2 separate regions of the Homo sapiens genome follow, and region 1 is linked to region 2. Evidence: fine-mapped expression QTL. A gene starts in region 2. The other region holds a variant in brackets. All regions are shown on one strand. Distances are from middle to middle.

Region 1 (12,695 bases), 58 kb after region 2:
TTCCAGAATATATCAGAGCAAATCCTAGACACTGCATCTTTATGCTTGTAAATATTGCAGTACATATCTCTAACATATAAGCACTGAAGAAACTGTAACCAAAGTGATTATTACACGTAACAACATTAATATCATATGATGTCCTTAATATCATATGATGTAACCCCTTAATATCATATGATGTCCAGTCTATGTTCAGATTTCTCCAATGGGCTGTTTTGGTTTGGTTTTGTTTTTAGAGACAGAGTCTTGCTTTGTCACCCAGGCTGGAGTACAGTTGTGTGATGTTGGCTCACTACAACCTCTGCCTCCTGGGTTCAAACGATTCTCATGCCTCATCCTCCTGAGCAGTTGTGATTACAGGTGTGGACCACCATGCCCAGCTAATTTTTTTGTATTTTTAGTAAAGACAGGGTTTCGCCCTGTTGGCCAGTCTGGTCTTGAACTTCTGGCCTCAAGTGATCTGAACACGTTGGCCTCCCAAAGTGCTGAGATTACAGGTGTGAGCTACTGTGCCCAGCCAATTGGCTGTTTTTTTGTTTGTTTGTTTGTTTGTTTGTTTTTAACAATTAAACAGTCTCCCCATTGTATTTGCTTGTAGGTCTCTGTTCCCCTTTCATCTGCATTTCTTGTTAAATTGGAAACTTTAACTAGAGGTGTTGTTAGATTCAGTTTTTTTCTTTTTCTTTTGAGACAGGGTCTCACTCTGTCACCCAGGCTGGAGTGCAGTGGTGTAAGCTCGGCTCACTACAGCCTCCCCCTCCTGGGTTCAAGCGATTCTTCCACCTCAGCCTCCCGAGTAGCTGGGACTACAGGTGTGCGCCACCACGCCTGGCTAATTTTTGCATTTTTTGGTAGAGATAGGGTTTCACCATGTTGGCTAGGCTGGTCTCAAACTCCTGATCTTTCAGGTGATCCACCCCCCTCAGCCTCCCAAAGTGTTGGGATAACAGGTGTGAGCCACCACGCCCAGCCCCCTATATCTTATTAATCCATGTGTCCATACGTCAATACAACCATACAAACATTCACCAACCCACCCATCTACCTACTCACCTACTTCCTCACTCATTCATTCATTCATCCACCCACCCATCTATCCATCCTTACACCTATCCATCTTTCTCTTTTTCTTTTTTTTTTTTTTTAAGACAGAGTCTCACTCTGTCGCCCAGGCTGGAGTGCAGTGGCGCTATCTCGGCTCACTGCAAGCTCCGCCTCCCAGGTTCACGCCATTCTCCTGCCTCAGCCTCCCGAGTAGCTGGGACTACAGGCGCCCGCTACCACGCCCAGCTAATTTTTTGTATTTTCAGTAGAGACGGGTTTCACCGTGTTAGCCAGGATGGTCTTGATCTCCTGACCTCGTGATCCGCCCACCTCGGCCTCCCTAAGTCCTGGGATTACAGGCGTGACGATCCTCACCCAGCCACCTATCCATCTTTCTACCCCCCTGCCTCTGCATGTCACTGTCCAGCCATCCATCTACTCACTCACTACTCTAACTGTCCACCCATCCATCTACTCACTCACTACTCTAACTGTCCAGCCATCCATCTACTCACTCACTACTCTAACTGTCCACCCATCCATCTACTCACTCACTACTCTAACTGTCCACCCATCCATCTACTCACTCACTACTCTAACTGTCCACCCATCCATCTACTCACTCACTACTCTAACTGTTCACCCATCCATCTTCTCACTCACTACTCTGTCCACACATCCATCTTCTCACTCACTACTCTGTCCACCCATCCATCTACTCACTCACTACTCTAACTGTCCACCCATCCATCCACTCACTCACTACTCTAACTGTTCACCCATCCATCTTCTCACTCACTACTGTAACTGTTCACCCATCCATCTACTCACTCACTACTCTGTTCACCCATCCATCTTCTCACTCACTACTCTAACTGTCCACACATCCATCTTCTCACTCACTACTCTGTCCACCCATCCATCTACTCACTCACTACTCTAACTGTCCACCCATCCATCCACTCACTCACTACTCTAACTGTTCACCCATCCATCTTCTCACTCACTACTCTAACTGTTCACCCATCCATCTACTCACTCACTACTCTGTCACCCATCCATCTACTCACTCACTACTCTAACTGTCCACCCATCCATCTACTCACTCACTACTCTAACTGTTCACCCATCCATCTACTCACTCACTACTCTGTCCACCCACCCATCTACTCACTCACTACTCTAACTGTCCATCCATTCATCTTTCCATCCATCCACCATATCCATCCACCTGCCCACCCATCTGCTTAGCTGGGCATTCATTTATCGTAATCAAGAGTGATTTGAGCTTCGAGTCAGTGACAAGCCAAAATAAAAATTAAAAATGTGGCTGGGCACAGAGGCTCATGCCTGTAATCACAGCACTTTGGAGGCCGAGGCGGGTGGATCACCTGAAAGGTCAGGAGTTCAAGACCAGCCTGGCCAACATGGTGAAACCCCGTCTGTACTTAAAAAAGTACAAAAATTAGCCAGCTGTGGTGGCGGGTGCTTGTAATCCCAGCAACTCAGAAAGCTGAGGCAGGAGAATCGCTTGAACCCGGGAGGGAGAGGTTGCAGTGAGCGGAGATTGCACCACTGCACTCCAGCCTGGGCAACAGAGCGAGACTCCGTCTCAAAAATAAAAATAAAAAATTTAATATTTACAGCCCTTATTTAGCATTGCTCACTTTATAACAGGCACGGAGCTTTCCCGGCATCCTGGAGACAGGATTTGAACCCAGGCCTGCCTATGCTCTTCTAGTGAGAGCAGTCCTGGCTGGGCCAAGGACACAAAGATGAACTCAGTATTGTCCTGTATTTCAGGGTGTGGGGGTGGGTGAGCACAGGTGCTAAAAGCAGCTTCTTACAACAATTTGGAAGCATGACCTGAAACCCCCTCTCCTGTCATCTCCCAGGAGCCACCTGTGTTCTGGCCCCCAAGTTCTCTACTTCCTGCTTCTGGGATGACTGTCGGCAGCATGGCGTGACAGTGATCCTGTATGTGGGCGAGCTCCTGCGGTACTTGTGTAACATTCCCCAGGTGAGGCTCTAAGATTAGGGCTCCATGGTGAACACCCAAGTATGAAATCCCAGGTAAAGGTCTCAGGTAAAGATTCAGGTACTGAACTCAAGTCCCTCAGATAATACACCTCATGCAAGAACCCCAGATAATGAGTTTCAGACAAGGCTTCCAATAATGGTTTCTTTGATAGCTGTGCTACCTTGAGCCTCAGTGTCCTCATTTGGAAAACAGGGATAATAGCCCCTACCCCTATCATGAGAATTTCCATTAAAAATTAATTAATTAAAATTAAATTTCCATTAAATTAAAGTTCTAGGTAACTACTCTTAGGTGAGACCCCAGATGAGGCCTCCAGTCACCTCTGGTAACGTCCCCCAGGCAAAGCTCTGAGGTCGCCCCTGCAGGTAACCCTCTATTTAAGACTCCAGTAACTACTCTCATGTAAGTAACCCAGGTAGATCCCTTAGGTAGAGGTCCCCCATCACCTTCCAGGTAACTCCCAAGGTAAGGACCCAGGATAACACCCCCTCTAGGTAAAGGTTCCAAGGCATGCCCCAAGAGCACCTCCTCCTCACCCTTCTGGGGACATTCCTGTAGCAACCAGAGGACCGGACACATACAGTCCGCCTGGCAATGGGCAATGGACTACGGGCTGATGTGTGGGAGACCTTCCAGCAGCGCTTCGGTCCTATTCGGATCTGGGAAGTCTACGGCTCCACAGAAGGCAACATGGGCTTAGTCAACTATGTGGGGCGCTGCGGGGCCCTGGGCAAGATGAGCTGCCTCCTCCGAGTGAGTGTGCGGGTACCTGGTGTGCAGCTGCCCTGAGGCTGAGCCCACAGGACCTATGTCAACACTCCACCCTCCACCCCAGATGCTGTCCCCCTTTGAGCTGGTGCAGTTCGACATGGAGGCGGCGGAGCCTGTGAGGGACAATCAGGGCTTCTGCATCCCTGTAGGGCTAGGTATGGGGGTTGAGGAGCCTTTCCTGGGTGGCAGGGGTGGCGACCCTCAGTCTTCTGCTTGGCTGGAACGAGCTGCTCAAAAGCTTGACGTTGGTGCTCACTAGAGGGGTCTGCAGCCTTCATCTGGACCCTGAGCCAGTGGCCTGCCTTACCACCATCTGGGGCCTCCGCCTCAGCTTCTCGGCTCTGTCCAGCTCCCCTGCCTTGATCTCTTGCTCTGATTTACTGGGTCTCTGGGTGTCCATCTGATTTGTTCTCTTGAGCTTTCTGTGGAAGACGGCATTCCAGCCATTGGTCCCTTGTCCTGTACCTTCTGTTAGTGTCTTCTCCCAGGGCCTTGCAAGGTCCTGGTCATATCTATTCTCACTGCCATTTGTCTGTCCGTCTTCCATCCCTTGTTATCCTTTTCCTGTTTCTCATGGGCTCCCCATACCGCCTTCTCTATACTTCTCTCTCATTTTCTGTGTCGCTTGTCGCAGTCTCTCAAGGTCTCTGAATGTCTCTCTCATCTCTGGATCTCCCTGTCTGTGTCTTTGGGTCTGTCCTTGGCAGGGTGCTGGGTGATGAAGAGTCCACCGTTGTTGAAAACCTCCAGCAGGGGGCTTGGCTGGTGGGCTCCAGGGGTTCTTGTTCCTGCTCCTACCCCAGGGGAGCCGGGGCTGCTGCTGACCAAGGTGGTAAGCCAGCAACCCTTCGTGGGCTACCGCGGCCCCCGAGAGCTGTCGGAACGGAAGCTGGTGCGCAACGTGCGGCAATCGGGCGACGTTTACTACAACACCGGGGACGTACTGGCCATGGACCGCGAAGGCTTCCTCTACTTCCGCGACCGCCTCGGGGACACCTTCCGGTCCGAGGCAGGGTTTCTCGGGGCGGGGCTGGCGCGGGGCCACGGACGCTTTCAGATCCTAGAGGGAGTCAGGCTGAAGAGGCGGGACTTTCCTGTCGTAAGAGGGCGGAACTTGGAGTCAGGACTTCTCACGCGAAGGCGGGGCTTCTCGATTTTCGAGGGGGCGGGGCTGACTGGGCCTCCTGATCCCCAAAAGGGGCGGGGCGGGGGCAAGAGGCGGGGCCTCTCCTTCCCGGGGGCGTGGTCACAAGCGCCGGCTCCCTCCTTGCAGATGGAAGGGCGAGAACGTGTCCACGCACGAGGTGGAGGGCGTGTTGTCGCAGGTGGACTTCTTGCAACAGGTTAACGTGTATGGCGTGTGCGTGCCAGGTGCGGAGGGTTCTCATTTTAAACTTCCAACAGCTTTGTGGGTGGAGGGGTCGTTATTCTGATTTTACAGGTGGGGAAGTGCTAGGGCCCAGAGAGGTTTAGAGACTTGCTGGCTCTCACAGCCAGTGAGCAGAGCTGGGCGAGGCTGGAGGGTCAGCTATGGGCCCTCGAGATGGGTCAGCCGAGAGTGACCAGACTGCTCTCTAGGTTGTGAGGGTAAGGTGGGCATGGCTGCTGTGCAGCTAGCCCCCGGCCAGACTTTCGACGGGGAGAAGTTGTACCAGCACGTTCGCGCTTGGCTCCCTGCCTACGCTACCCCCCATTTCATCCGCATCCAGGTGAGCCCAGGGTGGCCTGGTGGGTGGGTGGAAGATCATAGCCAGGGGGCGGGTGGATGTCACAGTGATTGGACCATGGTCACTGCCCTGCAGGACGCCATGGAGGTCACCAGCACGTTCAAACTGATGAAGACCCGGTTGGTGCGTGAGGGCTTCAATGTGGGGATCGTGGTTGACCCTCTGTTTGTACTGGACAACCGGGCCCAGTCCTTCCGGCCCCTGACGGCAGAAATGTACCAGGCTGTGTGTGAGGGAACCTGGAGGCTCTGATCACCTGGCCAACCCACTGGGGTAGGGATCAAAGCCAGCCACCCCCACCCCAACACACTCGGTGTCCCTTTCATCCTGGGCCTGTGTGAATCCCAGCCTGGCCATACCCTCAACCTCAGTGGGCTGGAAATGACAGTGGGCCCTGTAGCAGTGGCAGAATAAACTCAGATGTGTTCACAGAAGTCTGTATGTCTGCGTGGATGAAGGAGCAATGGAGGAGTGCAGGGGCTAGTGCCCTGAAGACCTTATTTTAGGGTCTTCCCTGTCTCCCAGCAAAGAACCTCAGCCATCCCTGTGGGATGACCCTGTCTGTGTAACGCCAAGGGTGTGGGAGGAGCTGGCCAGCCTCGCAGCTGCTCTGAGGTAGAGAGATGAGAACTCTGATTCTCATCTGTGGGTCTTTGGTGGGCCACTGAGGCGGTGGCTGGGCCAGTGGATGTGGATAACTCCCCTGTGAAGTGCTGTGGATACACAATCTGACAAAGCCTGGAGGTTGCTGGACTGAGGCTAGAAGGGCAAGCAGGAGGTAACTGGGGGAGGAGTGTCCCTGGCACTGTGAACGGCACGTGTAGAGGCCCTGGGGCAAGCTTTGTAGGTGGGGAGCAGTGGGAGCAGAGGCCTCTGGAAAATGGGAGTCTGCACAGTCTCAGGAGTTGGACCTGCTACCCGAAGCCTAGTGGAGATGTAGGTGGGGGTGTGTGGGTGCTGAGCCTCTGCCTCCAAGGCTTCTCGGCCCAGTAGGAACTGAAGGTGAGGCTACAGACACTGGAACAGTTGTGGTGGTGCCAGGCCGGTGGTCCATGGGTTAACTTTGGGAGCACAGCTGGGGTGATGATGGTGAGAAAAGGAACCCCACAGCAGTAAACGCCATATGCAAAGGGCTGTCCGTGGGCAGTGCTGCAGACTGCGACCCTGCCCATCCCTTCTCGTGTGCATAGTAAACACACCCCACAGCAATGCTTAAGCACACCTGAGAATGGCCCTGTGTGGCAGACGCACCTGAGTGTGGTTCAGAGTTCCCAGCTAAGGAATCTCAGAGATTCATTCCTTATTTTTGAGGAACATCTGGGTCCTTAGCCCTGTCCCATGGAATGCTGGTGGTATAAGGGATCCTGGCCTTTTGCTTTCAGTTAAATGAAGGTTGCCAGGGGGAGGATGTTAAGTGAAAATGCCATATAAACTGCATGCTTTTTGCAAGTGGTTCTCCTGCCCAGCCCACCGCCCCTGGACTCTCCCCGGTATGTAAGCCCCCAGTAAAACCCTACATCTTGTTTGCTGGCTCTTAGTCTCTTCTTCGGCCTCTTGAACCTGGTGCCGTCCCCATTGGAGTCAGTAGGGGTTTGGCACAATACTGTGCTCTCCCGTGCCTCAGCCTCCTCATCAGGCTATGGGCCACTTTGAGACAGAACTAGCCTTCGAAGGGAGCAGTGCAGGCAGCACCCCACGTGGGCTGTGAGGCAGCTGGGCTTCACAGAGTTCCTGGTAGCATTCGAGGCTCTTCCTGTCAGCCCTGCAGCCTGGAGCTGAGACAGTATCCTTTTCAGTTGGGGTCCCACTATGAGCATCTGTTTGTCATTGGTGGTGGCCGTGCACTGTAATTCTCTTCTGCGAAGTGATAGTTG[T/C]TGTGACTTGCTATTTCTGTGCCCTGTGTGGCCAGTGGAGCCCCACATGTTCCCTGAAGAGCCCTGGCCCTTTCATACAACTGGACTTGGATCCTCCCACGCACACAGTAGGTTGTCCAGTTCCTTCATACTCCTCCAGCCTGGGTGACAGAGTGAGACTCCGTCTCAAAAAAAAAAAAAAAAAAAAAAAAGAACCCTCACGTCCTTGTTAGTATAGTGGGAAAAAAAGAAGAATAACCCTTGTGGACTCACCTGGGGCCAGGCTAGAGCTGATACTTTTTTTTTTTTTGAGACAGAGTCTCGCTCTATCACCGAGGCTGTGGTGCAATGGTGCAATCTCAGCTCACTGCAAGCTCCGCCTCCCGGGTTCATGCCACTCTCCTGCCTCAGCCTCCTGAGTAGCTGGGACTACAGGTGCCCGCCACCACGCCCGGCTTTCTTTTTGTATTTTTAGTAGAGAGGGGGTTTCACCGTGTTAGCCAGGATGGTCTAGATCTCCTGACCTCATGATCCTCCCACCTCGGCCTCCCAGAGTGCTGGGATTACAGGTGTGAGCCACTGTGCCTGGCCTAGAGCTGATATCTTCACCACATCTCATGGGATGAGTTGTGTTGTGTTGCTCCCACCATAGTTGAGGAAGCCCCAGCCAAGAGAGGTGCTTTCCCCATGAGTTACTTGCCAAGCCCATTGTTGCAGGTGTTGGATCAGAGGGTGTGGATGTTGTAGAAATATCTCACTGTGGATCCTCAGCTTTACAAGTTCACCAGCACTTTATACAAATCCGTGCCTCCCTAAGCCCTAGCTAGCTTGGGGCATTCATAGTTTTTGCTATTACATTTGCAAGGATTAAAAAATAATATTTGATTAGCTGGGTGTGGTGGTATGCACCTGTAATCCCAGCTACTCAGGAGGCTGAAGCAGGAGAATCGCTTGAACTTGGGAGGTGGAGGTTGTAGTGAGCCAAGATTGCACCACTGCACTCCACTTTAGGCAACAGAGCTGAGAGTCTGTCTCAAAATAATAATAATAATTTTTGAGGCTGGGTGCAGTGGCTGACGCCTGTAATCCCAGCACTTTGGGAAGCCGAGGTGAGTGGATCATGAGGTCAGGAGTTTGAGACCAGCCTGGCCAACATAGTGAAACCCCGTCTCTACTAAAAATACAAAAAATTAGCCAGGTGTGGTGGTGCATGCCTGTAATCCCAGCTACTCAGGAGGCTGAGGCAGGAGAATCACTTGAACTCAGAAGGTAAAAGTTGCAGTGAGCTGAGATGGCGCCATTGCACTGCAGCCTGGGTGACAGGGCAAGACTCCGTCTCAGAAAAAATAAATAGGCGGGCGCGGTGGCTCAGGCCTGAAATCCCAGCACTTTGGGAGGCCAAGGTGGGTGGATCATGAGGTCAAGAGATCGAGACCAGCCTGGCCAACATGGTGAAACCCCGTCTCTACTAAAAATACAAAAAATTAGCTGGGTGTGGTGGCGGATGCCTGTAGTCCCAGCTACTCGGGAGGGTGAGGCAGGAGAATCTCTTGAGCTGGGGAGGCAGAGGTTGCAGTGAGCTGAGATTGCACCACTACACTCCAGCCTGGCGACAGAGCGAGACTCCGTCTCAAAAAATAAAATAAAAATAAATAAATAAATAAATTTAAATAATAATATAATTTTTGGCTGGGTGCAGTGGCTCATGCTTGTAATCCTAGCACTTTGGGAGGCCAGGGTCGGAGGACCACTTCACCCTAGGAGGTCAAGATCAGCCTGGGCAACATAGTGAGACCACGTCTCTAGAAAAAAAATTAAAAGTAAAAAAATTAGCCAGGAGTGGTATTGTGCACCTTTAGTCCTAGCTACTGGGCAGGCTGAGGCAGGAGGATGGCTTAAGCCCAGGAGTTTGAGGTAACAGTGAGCTATCATTGTGCTGCTGCACTCCATCCAGCCTGGGCAACAGAGGCAGGACCCTGTCTCTAAAATAAATAAAAATTTTAAAACTTTTTCTTATTCCCCCACTAGACTACAGATCTATGAAGTGTTTTTTATTCAATATATCACACACGTTATTCCTTTTCTCTTTTACTTTCCAAACAATTTTATTTAAAAAAAACCTGCAGTACAGTATTAAAAAGCAATACATTCAGCAGGAGTGACAACCAACAGAAACAAAGGGAGGAGGGTACGGAATACCAGGGACCCTACCTCAACTGATCCTCAGGGCTGGAGGCCAGGGGCAGACTGGGAGGAGCACGGGTGGTGGGGAAGGGAGAAAAGGGCACCCACCAAAATGAACAGGCAGAACAAAACATTTATATAGGAAATGTCTAGTTGAACTTGAGGATCTTGGGGAGACGGAAAAGCACCTTTTTTTTTTTTTTCCAAAAATATCCTGGACTATCAGGGAGGGTTGGCCTCCTGGGGCGAAATGAGCAGGCAGAGCCCTACCCTACACTCTACTATTGTGGAGGGGATGTGCTGGGGGCTGGTGACACACATTTTATTCTTCTTTTTTTTTTTTTTTTTTTTTGAGATGGAGTCTCACTCTTGTTGCCTAGGCTGGAGTGCAGTGGCACTATCTTGGCTCACTGCAAACTCCGCCTCCCGGAACCAAGTGATTCTCCTGCCTCAGCCTCCTGAGTAGCTGGGATTACAGGCACACACTACCACACCTGACTAATTTTTGTATTTTTAGTAGAGACGGGGTTTCACCATCTTGACCAGGCTGGTCTTGAACTCTTGACCTCGTGATCCACCCACGTCGGCCTCCCAAAGTGCTGGGGTTACAGGTGTGAGCCACTGCACCCTTTTTTTTTTTTTTTTTTGAGACGTAGTCTCACTCTGTCACCCAGGCTGGAGTACAGTTGCACAATCTGGGCTCACTGCAACCTCTGCCTCCCAGGTTCAAGTGATGCTCCTGTCTCAGCCTCCTGAGTAGGTGGGATTACAGGCATGTGCCACCAGGCTCAGCTAATTTTTGCATTTTTTTGGTAGAGATGGGGTTTCACTATGTTGGCCAGGCTGGTCTCGAACTCCTGACCTCAGGTGATCTGCCCGCCTTGGCCTCCCAACGTGCTGGGATGACAGGCGTGAGCCACCACACCCAGCGTATTCTTAATTTCATTCTATAAGTCTTTCTGTTTCTCCTGTCCCAAGCTGCTGTAATTAGCATAGGCTTGTAATATATATATATATATATATATATATATATATATATATTTTTTTTTTTTTTTTTTTTTTCTTTTTCTTTCTCTCTTTTTTTTTTTTTTTTTTTTTTTTTGAGAAGGAGTCTCTCTCTGTTGTCCAAGCTGGAGTGCAGTGGCTTGATCTCAGTTCACCGCAACCTCTGCCTCCCAAGTTGAAGCGATTCCCCCACCTCAGCCTCCTGAGTAGCTGGGATTATAGGTGTATGCCGCCACTCCTGGCTAATTTTTGTATTTTTAGTAGAGATGGAGTTTCACCATGTTGGCCGGGCTGGTCTCGAACCCCTGACCTCAGGTGATCCACCTGCCTCGGCCTCCCAAAGTGCTGGGATTACAGGTGTGAGCCACTGCACCTGGCGGAATTCCTACTCTTTACTTTTATTTCAAAACCTTCTTAGCTAGTCATGTGTCAGAACTCTTTCCCATTTATGTCTTTTCCCCCCAAAATTGCTGGTTAGGTATAGAAGTAAAAGGTGGTGGAGGGCACCATGCTTTCTTTATATTCTTATGGGTGGCTGCTAGTGTGGGGACTGGTTTTTTTGTTTTTTTTTTTCTTTTTTGAGATAGGGTCTCGCTCTGTCACCCAGGCTGGAGTGCAGTGGCACCATCATCGCTCACTGCACCCTTGACCTCCTAGGCTCAAGTGATCCCCCCCAGTAGCTGGGGCTGCAGGCATGCACCATCATGCCTTGCTAATTAAAAAAAACATATTTTCTTTTGTAGAGTTGGGATCTTACTGTGTTACCCAGGCTGGTCTCGAACTCCTGGGCTTAAGCGATCGTCTTGCTTCAGCTTCCCAAAGTGCTGGGATTATAGGAGTGATTCACTGTCCTAGGAAGGATTGTTTCTTTCTTTCTTTCTTCCTTTTTTTTTTTTTTTTTTTTTTTTTTTGAGATGGAGTCTAGCTCTGTCTCCCAGGCTGGAGTGCAGTGGCGCAATCTCGGCTCACTGCAAGCTCCGCCTCCCAGGTTCACGCCATTCTCCTGCCTCAGCCTCCTGAGTAGCTGGGACTACAGGCGCCCGCCACCACGCCTGGCTAATTTTTTTTTTTTTGTATTTTTTAGTACAGACGAGGTTTCACCGTGTTACCCAGGATGGTCTCGATCTCTTGACCTCGTGATCCGCCCCCCCCTTAGCCTCCCAGAGTGCTGGGATTACAGGCGTGAGCCACTGTGCCCGGCCCCAGGAAGGATTCTTGAAGTATCGGTGGATGCCCTCATGGGAGGACCAGTGACTCTCACGAAAAGCAGCCTTTGTTGTCCAAGTGAATAAATAATGCCTTTCATGTAAGCATGTGAGAAATACAGGCAGATGCTGTAGCGATGGCTCAGATGGTGACGTTTCTTACAGACTTTACCAAGTCCACGGTTTCTTCTCATCCTGCCTTTTCCTGGATGCCCGTGTTAAGTTCCCCGCTCCCACCCCTAATGACAGATGACTTCTCCCACCGACTTTCCGTATCCGACATTATGCTCTCGGGTTTGATGGTTCAAGATGACTTTTTCTCTATGAATGAATAAGTCAATGATGATTAACAGTGGTGGTAATGAGAGGTACCTCCTCACACAGATCCCTCTCTGCCTTGCTAGAACTTGCCTTACCCTGGTGAGGGTGCTCTGAAAAGGCATGGACGTGGCTGCTGGTCCTGCCTCTGGACCCACAGTGACTAGGGTCTCTCTGTTTTCTGACATGTCCAGGGAGGGCTGGGCAGAGCCTCATGGGTTAGAGGTGTGGGTCACGTCTCTGCTGTCCATGCTGGGAGTGAGTCATTGACAAGAGGGCCATGGAGAGGGCCTTTTCGGAAGGGCGGTTGGAAGGAACCTTCTGGAAGGGTGGCGTGGTGATCGTAGCCTGAGAGGCTGGATATGAGGAAATAGCAGGTGTGGCAGGAGGGGGATTCTTAGGGCCCATCTGGTGCTGGGGAGTAGGACTGACAGACCTGGTCCAGACAGGCCAGCAGGAAGTCAAGACTGAAGAGAGGGTTCCAGAGACCTGGGGAGGGGTCAAAAAGTGAGATAAGTGGGGCACCCACAGAAGGAGAGATGGT
Region 2 (11,027 bases):
TCCCATCAAGAGACAGAGCACAGCTAACTAGGTGTTAGGTGATTGATGGGAGAGTGAGAAGGTTAAGTCAATCTGTCTTAGAAATGGGAAAGTTCCTGCAGGAAGCAGCTAGACCCTTAGGACTAGAGGAACAAAGGGAAGCATTGCAACTTAGAAGCTCCAATGAGTTTCCCATGGAGCTGGAACTCAGGCCCCTGAGAAGAGGGCACTGCTGAGCCAGTCCTGGGGTCTCTTAGCTGGCAGGGAAGCCCTGTGGGCCTGAGGGGGTACTGCTCAGCTGGTCTGGAGGTCTCTGTTCTCAAGAGGGTGCCCCATAGGCCTAGGAGACTCCTGAGGGGGCACTGGTGTGGGTGTCTCCAAGGGGCCCAGTGAGCCTGGTTCTGGGAGGTATGTAAAAACTGTTGCTCCTGGAAGGACCTGCTGTTGCCAAGGGGAAGAGGTGGTGCTGGCCTAGTCTCTTCTCCCTTTCCAACCCCTGTTCCAGCCTGCCCTTAACAGATCTGCAAGTGAAGAGAGGTGTTTGTAGTCTCTGCCCTGCACAGTGATGCCTAGGTGGGTAGGTCTGGAGCCCAGCCTTGTCTGGTGATGAAATCCCATGGGATTTTCCCTTGACACTGAGACCAGGGCCTCCAAGGGCTGGGAGAACACTCAATCCTCAGGGAGGTTACCAGCCTCCTGAGCACCAGTCCTCCTTGCTCCAAGTCAGCGTTAATGATTCATTCCCATGATACTACCTCTCCCACCCCAGCTCAGCTGTACAGCTACCCTTACCCTAACAGCACCCTACTCCCTAAAGTGGTCCTGAGCGGCCAAAGCTTTCTACCTTTATCTACCTATCAGTAGGAGTACCCGCTGAAGAGTTGTACTCATGGGGACATTCAGCATCTCACCCTTAGTACTAGAGGAACAAAGGGAAGCAGTGGGGTCACAGCACTTCTTACAGCTGGGAGCCAAGGATCCCACTTGGATCTGCCAACCCCCAGGTTTGTGGGTGGTACTGTGCCTAAACTTGATGCCTGCAACCTGCATGCTCCCCTCCACACCCTGTCACGGCTGTCCCCTGGGCCATGGGCCAAGCCAAACCCCAGGAAAGGACCCAGACAGGCCAGAATCTCCCTAGCCAACCAAGATTATGCGATCCAGCAGGAGCAAACTGACACCTGGTGATCCAGATTCTGCCTCAGGATGTCTTTGTAAAACTCCTTTACACCTAGGAAACCATTTCCTAGTTTTAAAACTAGAAGATTTCACCTGGAAATTCAGATTTTTCAAGACTTTCCTGTTCTCGTGTTCACAAGCAGCAGGTGATGAGGGTGTAGGACCCTGCAGATGGAACCCCAGCCAGTCTGAGAAGCAAAGGCTGCAGGCCCTGGGCCAGTTTCCCTGCCCTGTGGTGATCATTCCCATCGCTAGAGCTGAAGGCTTCTCCCACCCTGGCCCCATGCACATTGGAAGGTTTCAGTCAGGAGTAGATTCAGCAGCAAACCAGTGGAAACGCAGCTTAGGTGAAAGTGGACAGATGCTGAGAGCATAAGTTCAGCATACTGCAGGCTTCAGGGCAGCGTCTCCAGGACCCAGTGCCATTGCCTGTTTTGCCCTAGCCATCTTCCCCTTCCATCCCATTGTCCAGGTCCTTCACACAGCCCCTCTCCCCCAACCCTCCAGTGGGTGACTTGGGTGCAGGTAACACAGGCTGAAAGGCAGTTTCAAAGAAGGGGCTTGGCCTTGGCCAGAAGCCACTCCTGGGGGAGCATCTGCAGAATCAGAGGAGTGGCGCCTGGGCCCCTCCGCAGGCAAGTGCCACACCATGCGCTCACGGGGCTGGCAGTTTCCGTGGTGACGGCCGGAAGTCGCTGACCGGCAGAGTTCCGTTTCCTCCCGCCCTCCGAGGCACGCTGAGCTGTGATTGGATGGGAAGCTGACCCCCGCCTCCATCCCCTTTTCCAGATAGTGGGGGAAGCGCAGAGGCTGCAGTGCGTGTCCGCTGGAACTTGAGGCCCACGCCAATAGCGGCCCGATTCCGCCCCCACGTCGCGTTCCCCAAGTGTCCACCCCGACAGGTCTTCCCCTACACCACTGTAACCCTCCACAGTGCTTACCACTCTCTGGCACAATACATGTTTTGTTAGTTTACCTCAATCAGAATCTCCAGGAACGGGGATCTTTGGGTTTGCGATGGGACAGGGAAGGTACTCGACCTCGCACCCTCTGGGTAACGCATCTAGTCTCACTCAGGGTCTTGCCGCGATCACCCTGCCTTGTCTGTGACCCATAGGGTCAAAGGCAGGCCGGGCGGGTGGCGGCAGCAGCGGAGGTGACCACCCGCGCCGCGCTCTGCACATATATACAACTTAAGATGAAGTGACCGCGAGCAAAAGCGGCCCACGTCTGCCCCACTCAAAGATGGCGACTAACTCCGCTTCCTGCCCGGCCCCGCGAAAGTCGCCGGAAGTGACCTGCAAGGCCGCCGAAGCGTCATCTCCATGAACGGAAATGCCCGAGTCCAGCCGAAGGAGGCCGAACCCCAAACTCCATCGCTGAGCAACGCGGGTTTGCGGCGGCTGCGCAGGCGCACAACGCAGGCCGGGCGGGAAGAGCCAAAGCGGGCAGGCGGCGGAAATATCCGAAGCGGCGGGGCGCCCGAGGCCGTTGCCGACCTCCGCGCTAAAGCCGCTGCTGCCGCGGAAGACGATCCTCCAGTACCCGCCCGCCGTCACCGCAGCTGCCGTGTCCTCCTCCCACCCCTAGCCGCACCCCCTCGCGGAGGGATCAGCTGAGCGGCCAAACGGCACGGTCGGGGGAGCCCCGAGTCCGCAGCTGCAGCGGGGCCTGAGACCAGAGTTGGCGAGGGCAAGGAAGGAGCGGCCCCGGGCAGTGGGGGCGGGGCCGGGCGGGCCCGAGAACAGCCGAATTTGGCCGAGCGCTGCCGAGCGAGTCCGAGGCGCTGGGCCAGGCCGGAGCCGGACTACGGGAGCCGAGGCGGGCCGCGCGGTGGGCGCGGAGAGGAGCGGAGCGGCGCGGCAGGCCGGGCGGGTGGCGGCAGCAGCGGAGGAGGCCGCAGCTGCGGGTCCGAGGAGCGGAGGCGACGCGGGCGGCGGCGGGGGGCCGGGTGGCCGGGGTCCCGGGCCCCGCGGCGGCGGCAGCGGCGGCGGCGGCGGCAGGATGATCAAGCTGTTCTCGCTGAAGCAGCAGAAGAAGGAGGAGGAGTCGGCGGGCGGCACCAAGGGCAGCAGCAAGAAGGCGTCGGCGGCGCAGCTGCGGATCCAGAAGGGTAGGGGGTCAGGGGATGGGGTTGGAGCCGGAGGTCGGAGGTCAGGGCCTGAGGCAGGGTGATGTGGGAGTCAGGAAGGGGTAATGCGGTTGCTGAGGGTCAGAGGTGAAGGGCCCCGAGCGTGGGGGGGGTCGGAGGTCAAGTCTTGAGGGTTGGGATCATGCAGTCACGGGGAGGGGGTCAGAGATAGGGGCCCGGTATGTGGTGGTTTAGGATATTAGGAAGGCCTGGTGTCTGCTACTAGGGACTCGGAATCTCAGAGTCAGGCAGTGGAGTGGAGGAACTGACGACTCGAGAGTCTGGGGGTTAGACGGGAACTTGGGTTTGGGGTGACAGGCGGAGAAGAGAGGGATAGTAGAGGCCAGGGGTTGGGGATATGAGTGGAAGAGGATTTAGTTTATTATGCTGGGGTCTCTGGGAATCTCTGAGTCAAACGGGTGAAGTAGGTTGGAGGACCAGGGACTCATGGGCCTGCCTGAGTCACAGCAATTTGGGGTTTGGGGTGACAGGTGGAGGAGGGAAGGTTAATGAGTACCAGGGATTGGAGACAGGGGTGAGGGGAAATTTAGGCTATTGTGCTGTGAACCTCAGAGTCAGAGGGGGTGGGGTAGGGTGGCGGGGGTTGGGGACTTGAGAGTGTGGGGGTCACATGGAAAGCTGGGTCTGAGAGACAGAGAAGAGGAAGGACAGTGAGGACTGAGGGTTGGTGGGGGTGGGCAGGATCTTTGAGTTTGGGTGAACAGGTAGATACTGTAGAGTGGAGGTCATGGATGGGGAGCCTGGGGTTTAGGGCGGTCAGAGGATGTTTGGGAGTGGGGGCATTTGGGAGCTGTGGATACAGAAAAGTTGGGGGTCACCCTGGGCCAGGAGTTGGGACACGCATACACAGCTGAACATGCATGTTTGGGGTATGCTGTGTATCCACAAGAGCCAAGCTGGGGAGCAGGGAGAGGGCTGGAGGTGTGGAGCACAGCCCAGGAGAGGCGCCTGGGGGTCCAGGAGGAGACGATGGGGGCTCTGCTAACAAACACCCGCCCTAAGTGTCCTGCTGGCTCCCTCTCTCTCTCTCTTCCCCTCCCTCTTTCTGTTCCCGACTCTCTGCTACCCAAACCCAGACATAAACGAGCTGAACCTGCCCAAGACGTGTGATATCAGCTTCTCAGATCCAGACGACCTCCTCAACTTCAAGCTGGTCATCTGTCCTGATGAGGTGAGGGTGCATATGGCTGAATTCCCAGGAGCAAACCAAGGGTGTCCCCACTGAGAGGAGGGAGACATGTTCTGCCCATCGGGCCCCACAGGATGGAACCCTAAAATTTTCTTCTCCCCCTTTTCCTCCCAGGGCTTCTACAAGAGTGGGAAGTTTGTGTTCAGTTTTAAGGTGAGTCCCAGGCGGGCAGGGATGGCTCCCTGGACAGAGGAGGCAGCAGCTGAGGCCCTTCCAGGCACCTACCCATCTCTCTTTTCTTTTCCTGGAGCCAGGTGGGCCAGGGTTACCCGCATGATCCCCCCAAGGTGAAGTGTGAGACAATGGTCTATCACCCCAACATTGACCTCGAGGGCAACGTCTGCCTCAACATCCTCAGGTGAGGACACTGGCCCTCTAATGCCCTCCTCAGCGCTGCCTGCCAGGCCTCCCTCATGGTCTTGTGGGCACTACATCAGACTCTGTCCCTTCCCACCCCTTTGTTGTCTGTGGTTTCTTGATTTCCCAGTCATCTTCCTCATGGCCTGACCTTGGTTTTCTCCTTGGCCTGTCCTGCTCCACACCCTCCCTCCCAGCCTCTCACATGCTCACTCTCCTATGCCCTGGATCTGACCTGCCCAACACCAGAGGGGCCTGTGGCAGTCTCCCACTCACCAAGCCCTGACCCTGATGCTCTCTGTCCACAGAGAGGACTGGAAGCCAGTCCTTACGATAAACTCCATAATTTATGGCCTGCAGTATCTCTTCTTGGTGAGTAGGAATAGGTGGTTGGGTCTGGGGAGATTGGCCTTCTGTCCCTCTGGCCTGTTGACCCCCCCTACCTGTACTGGCCACAGGAGCCCAACCCCGAGGACCCACTGAACAAGGAGGCCGCAGAGGTCCTGCAGAACAACCGGCGGCTGTTTGAGCAGAACGTGCAGCGCTCCATGCGGGGTGGCTACATCGGCTCCACCTACTTTGAGCGCTGCCTGAAATAGGGTTGGCGCATACCCACCCCCGCCACGGCCACAAGCCCTGGCATCCCCTGCAAATATTTATTGGGGGCCATGGGTAGGGGTTTGGGGGGCGGCCGGTGGGGGAATCCCCTGCCTTGGCCTTGCCTCCCCTTCCTGCCACGTGCCCCTAGTTATTTTTTTTTTTTTAACACCATGTGATTAAGGTCGGCGCTGCCTCCCCCGACCCACTCAGCGATGGGAAATGAATTGGCTTGTCTAGCCCCCCTGCTGGGTGCTTGTTCAGCCCCCACTCTGGGCTGTGGAGTGGGTGGGCAACGGGCCTGGGTAGCTGGGCCCAGGCAACCCACCCCTCCACCTCTGGAGGTCCCACCAGGCTATTAAAGGGGAATGTTACTGCATGGCCTCTGCTTCTTACTTCTATGGGGTGGGAGGGGCAGCTGAGGTCCATTAGGGCCTGCAAAGCTGGGGTGGTGGAAGGTGTGGTCACAGGTGGCATTGGAGCACCCTACAACAGGCTGCCCAGTGCCTGGGGCAGCTCTAAAGTTGGTGGGGATACCATGACTGTGCCTGGGGTTGGTTGGGATGAAGCCTACTCTAGGATGAGAAGCGTAGGCAGGATCCAGTGACCTGTGGCTTCCTGGCCAAGAGGCCAGCAAAGTGGAAGAAACAAGCCATCTCTAGCTTTGCCCCTTTCTTGTGTGGGTGGGCCCACCGAGGAGGAGGAGCCTTCTGAGGCTCCTTCTATCTGAGGCCTCAGGCAGAAGTCAAGGTCTCACGAATAAGCTGGGTCCTCAAGTGGAGGTTGGGTGGAAAGCGCCCACCCCGGTACTGGCTTGGGTCACTCGGGCGGGACTCAAAACATGAAACACTCGGACGCGCAGAGGAAACGGGAGCTGTTGCGCATGCGCTCGGACGCTGGCCCGTTCCGGGGCACGGGCGCACGCGCGCTCCTGGAGTTTCCCAACCTTCCGGGTGCGGGCGGGGCATGTTACGTCACGTCGTTTAATCCGGAAACGGCGGCGGCGGCGACAGGACCGAGGGGCCTTAGTTGGTGGGCAAGTCGGGGATCCCAGAAAGAGAAGCGTGACCCGGAAGCGGAAACGGGTGTCCGTCCCAGCTCCGGTGAGTGGCCCCTGCTGGACCGTGGATCCCGGGCGGGCGTGCGGGCGGCAGCGTACGAGGCCTTCTACTCGCCCGGGTGTCCGGTGCCTCGCTTCTCCCTGGGACCCTGTCGTCAACATCGAGGTCTCCAACACCACCTTGCTTTGGTGCCGGGCCCACTGACTGTCCTCGGTGTATAGTGCGACCGAATCTCCATCATCCCGTCCTCAGTGTACAGGATGCCCCAGCGCCCCCAACCGTCTCCCTCAGCATTCAGGGTCCCCAAATCCTAATGCCTTGTCCTGAGCTTCACAGCCCCACATTCACCTGTTCTTGGTACTTAGCGTTTCCGCCCATCCTGTCCTCCTCTATCAGAACCCCCACAATTGCTCTGTCCTCGGTGCCCACAGTCTCCAAAACACCAGTGCACCGGCCCGCGTCATCCCCCGCTCTCAGTCGTATCAAGGACTCCAGGGCCTCACCCATAGTTCTGGAGAGGGAAGCTGAACTTGCAAGCCATAACTTCTTTTGGGGCATGGCGATGAAGGAGGGGCTCGGGCCAGCACTTGGATAATTTTCAGGTCTACCTGTCCCCCTTTATGTGTCCCCGGGACAATCCCAGTGTTCTCAGCTGCTCCCTTTTGGCTCCTCATTCCTGCCTCCAGTCTCCGTTAGCCCCTTCCCATTTGGCAAGGCTCCCGTGACCCTGTTCTGCTTCTTGCCCTCCTGGGCCCCATGCCCTACAACTGGGCCTCACTCACATCTGTCTCAGGCCTGCCAGTGAGCTTCTACCATCATGGACCTATTGTTCGGGCGCCGGAAGACGCCAGAGGAGCTACTGCGGCAGAACCAGAGGGCCCTGAACCGTGCCATGCGGGAGCTGGACCGCGAGCGACAGAAACTAGAGACCCAGGAGAAGAAAATCATTGCAGACATTAAGAAGATGGCCAAGCAAGGCCAGATGGTGAGTGTGGGTGGTCGGGCAGGTTGCTGTCAATCAGGCACGGCTCTAACAGCAGTGAACAAGAGAGACCAGACACCAAACACAGGTGCTTTCAGCAAAACGAGTGGAGTGAAAGGTCAGCAGGGCTTCCCTAGTTTGAGGGTCTGGAAGGCTGCCTCCAAGGAACTGGTATGAGATCCAAGGCTTGAGTGATGAGAGTGAGCCTACAGATCTGGGCAGGGAATGTGTTAAGCAGACAGAGCAGCAAATGTTAAAAAAGAGCCTCAAAAAAATGGGAGATGACAGGTGAGCTTCAAGAGTTGGGCATGGACCAGACAATTCAGAACTCTGGGCCAAAGTGGGAGCTAAGTTGGAAGGTTAGGGATTACAGGGCCGGGCGCAGTAGCTCAGAGACCTGTAATCCCAGCACTTTGGGAGGCAGAGGTGGTTGGATCACCTGAGGTCAGGACTTCGAGACCAGCCTGACCAACACAGAGTAACCCCGTCTCTACTGAAAATAAAAAAAACTAGCCAGGCATGGTGGCGCACGCCTGTAATCCCAGCTACTCAGCAGGGCTGAGGCAGGACAATCTCTTGAACCCAGGAGGCGGAGGTTACAGTGAGCCAAGATCATGCCACTGCACTCCAGCCTGGGTGACAGAGCGAGACTCTGTCTCAAAAAAAAAAAAAAAAACCAGTTAACTATAAGGATAAGCTGGCCCGGCATGATGGCTCAAGCCTGTAATCCCAGCACTTTGGGAGGCTGAGGTGGGTGGATCACCTGAGGTCAGGATTTCGAGACCAGCCTGGCCAACATGGCAAAACCCCACTCTACCAAAAATTAGCCGGGCATGGTGGTGCATACTTGTTATCCCAGCTATTCGAGAGGCTGAGGCAGAAGAATCGCTTGAGGCCGGGAGGCACAGTTTGCAGTGAGCCAAGATTGTGCCACTGCACTCCAGCCTAGGCAACAAAGCAAGACTCCAACTCAAAAAAAAAAAAAAGGTAAGGGTAAGCTATAAGCTATGGCCAAGAGGCTGGTAAGAGACAGCCGGAACCAGTAGGGAGAGCATGAAGAAGGAACACAGCCTTTGATGGGTGAGAGGGTTTTGGCCTGAACAGGTAGGCAGAGAAGATACCATTTCTTGGGATGGGCAAGAAAGATGTTTGGAGAGGAAATCAAAAGCTGAGCCTCAGATAGGTCTGTATGTGATTCTGGATAGTTCGAGGTATGGGTTTGTATCAGGTGAAGGAAGAGACAGATTCTTTGTCTAGGCTGGGAATAAAAATTGAGGAATGGCTGTTGTAAGTCAAAAGAATGACTGAAAACATGGAGGGAAAAGGAACCCTCAGGAGTGAGCCTGGGGCCTTTCTTTTACCATTTACAGATCAAGAGAAGTGAGGAGGACCTTACAAAGGAGCCCAGGGAGTTGGTGGCCCAAGAGGCAGAGGAGGGTTAGGTCAGAAGGAGGGAGGGACCAGTGACCATTGGGTTAGCCAGAGTCTCTGGAAACTTCAAGTGGAATTGCAAATTGGGCTGGTGGGGAGGGACAACCAACTAATGGGGTGTCAAGAAGTGTAGGATAATCTCATTCCTGTGTCCTTGATACCCTTGTCTACTCTGCAGGATGCTGTTCGCATCATGGCAAAAGACTTGGTGCGCACCCGGCGCTATGTGCGCAAGTTTGTATTGATGCGGGCCAACATCCAGGCTGTGTCCCTCAAGATCCAGACACTCAAGTCCAACAACTCGATGGCACAAGCCATGAAGGGTGTCACCAAGGCCATGGGCACCATGAACAGACAGGTGCGCTTTTCCCAATCCCCCTTCCCACTCCCACGACCCATGGGGATCACACTCACACTCCTGTCACTTCCAGCTGAAGTTGCCCCAGATCCAGAAGATCATGATGGAGTTTGAGCGGCAGGCAGAGATCATGGATATGAAGGAGGAGATGATGAATGATGCCATTGATGATGCCATGGGTGATGAGGAAGATGAAGAGGAGAGGTATGGGGAAACTGGATGGGAGGGTGGAGATGTTTGCCTGGCCCTCACGGAGTGCATAGCCCTCACTGAGTTCTCTCTCTTCCCTAGTGATGCTGTGGTGTCCCAGGTTCTGGATGAGCTGGGACTTAGCCTAACAGATGAGCTGTCGAGTGAGTGCTCCAAATCCTGGACCCCATTTCCCACCCAAGGCCCAGCCACAGCTCCAAGCCCTCCCTTTCCCTGCATTACTCCCCTCCGCTGCCTGACCCCACCTGCTCAAACCCCCACTTTCTCTGCAGACCTCCCCTCAACTGGGGGCTCGCTTAGTGTGGCTGCTGGTGGGAAAAAAGCAGAGGCCGCAGCCTCAGCCCTAGCTGATGCTGATGCAGACCTGGAGGAACGGCTTAAGAACCTGCGGAGGGACTGAGTGCCCCTGCCACTCCGAGATAACCAGTGGATGCCCAGGATCTTTTACCACAACCCCTCTGTAATAAAAGAGATTTGACACTAGTCTCCAGGCCCATGTGACTTTTGGCCTGATGTGGGACCAGACTGGGGTCCCTGGGAGGATGGGCATCACTAAGGCAAGAGGCACTTGGTACTAAGCTAAGGGTGGGGGTTTGGGGCAGGGGTGAACAAGCAAAGTCCACCTGGGATTTTCAGGAGCTGGGAGCTTCAGGTGAGCTGTGGGCCCTTCTCCATCACCTCTCCCAAGATACTGGACTGCCCAAACACCCTGGTAGGATCTTGAGAGTCCAGGCCTCATCTGCCAGGCTGTAGTGTCCAACACTGTTTGGTCCAGTGATGGTTTAATGACAACACTCAAGGACAGTCCAGACCAACCAATAGAGGCAAGGGGGTGGCCTTGGGATTCACACAGGCTCGACTGTAGAGTAACTAAATCATAACACAGAGATGAATGATAATGTTAAGTGGACTCAGCAAAGGGAGACAGGGAAAAAAACCACATCTGGAAGGTCTCAGTTCACTGTGGGACCTTCTGAAGATGAGAAACAGCTACAGCACCAAAATTTAGGAAGCATTCAGTAGAGTGGCTGTGCTACACCTGGGGCTAACCCTGCCTACACAGGGATGTAGGTCACACCTACCCAGTATCCCACAGGGTACCCAACAAGCCTCTAGTGTGTACATCCTTTGCCCTGGGTGACCCTCCCCATACCCAGAAAGGGCAAGGAGGCAGTCTTCCCCACTCCCTAGGCATCCATACACATGGGCTTCGATAGGTGGGGGACAAGACCCCCCTCCCTTGTGCCACCAGTGCTTGATAAGGCTGACTAGTAGATACAGTCAATAAACCAGGCCCCAGGACCACAGTCCCCCAACCAGCCAACGCCTGAGGAACTGGTGAAGTTTTTATTAAATCCACAGAAGTAAAAACCATATCGTGAGGAACTGGGGGATGGGGCCACCAGGGAGTGGGAGTCAGGCCACCAGGGGAGTGGGGATGGGGTGACAGGACAGAGAACAGAGCCAGGCTGGGCTGGCCATGGGGGCTCCAGCCTCAGGGGCCATCACCAGGGCCACCAGACAGCTCCTGG

Which allele goes with the higher level. Alleles are on the strand shown, and positions count from the first base shown. SD is a standard deviation of normalised expression in the study named.
As copies of C replace T in region 1, the expression in monocytes after interferon gamma of the gene that starts at base 6,439 in region 2 goes down (large effect, 1.5 SD a copy in Fairfax 2014).

Evidence for each region. PIP is the estimated chance that this variant, and not a neighbour inherited with it, causes the effect.
Region 1: its variant is fine-mapped to the expression of CHMP2A in monocytes after interferon gamma (Fairfax 2014, PIP 0.95).

Annotation. Positions count from the first base shown.
Region 1 is chr19:58,491,658-58,504,352 of GRCh38, reverse strand. It overlaps SLC27A5 (solute carrier family 27 member 5), which reads left to right. Exons shown (of 10, transcript NM_012254.3): 4 at 2,943-3,067; 5 at 3,647-3,841; 6 at 3,924-4,014; 7 at 4,663-4,861; 8 at 5,133-5,230; 9 at 5,438-5,568; 10 at 5,662-6,020. The coding sequence ends at 5,838. It overlaps LOC105372485 (a long non-coding RNA gene), which reads right to left and starts at 4,842. Exons shown (of 2, transcript XR_001754024.2): 1 at 3,625-4,842. RefSeq lists enhancers at 4,465-4,674, 4,735-4,794. The variant T/C (reference allele first, on the strand shown) is at 7,461.
Region 2 is chr19:58,550,517-58,561,543 of GRCh38, reverse strand. CHMP2A (charged multivesicular body protein 2A) reads left to right here and starts at 6,439. Exons shown (of 6, transcript NM_014453.4): 1 at 6,439-6,556; 2 at 7,308-7,499; 3 at 9,106-9,285; 4 at 9,359-9,489; 5 at 9,577-9,638; 6 at 9,768-9,978. The coding sequence starts at 7,332. The coding sequence ends at 9,895. TRIM28 (tripartite motif containing 28) reads right to left here. Exons shown (of 17, transcript NM_005762.3): 17 at 10,829-11,027. The coding sequence ends at 10,991. UBE2M (ubiquitin conjugating enzyme E2 M) reads left to right here and starts at 2,933. Exons shown (of 6, transcript NM_003969.4): 1 at 2,933-3,271; 2 at 4,387-4,481; 3 at 4,614-4,652; 4 at 4,754-4,857; 5 at 5,165-5,228; 6 at 5,315-5,832. The coding sequence starts at 3,163. The coding sequence ends at 5,455. It overlaps MZF1-AS1 (MZF1 antisense RNA 1), which reads right to left and starts at 2,358. Exons shown (of 6, transcript NR_027334.2): 1 at 2,135-2,358. RefSeq lists enhancers at 1,577-2,173, 2,319-2,578, 5,133-5,816, 6,211-6,280, 6,351-6,440 and a silencer at 2,709-3,008.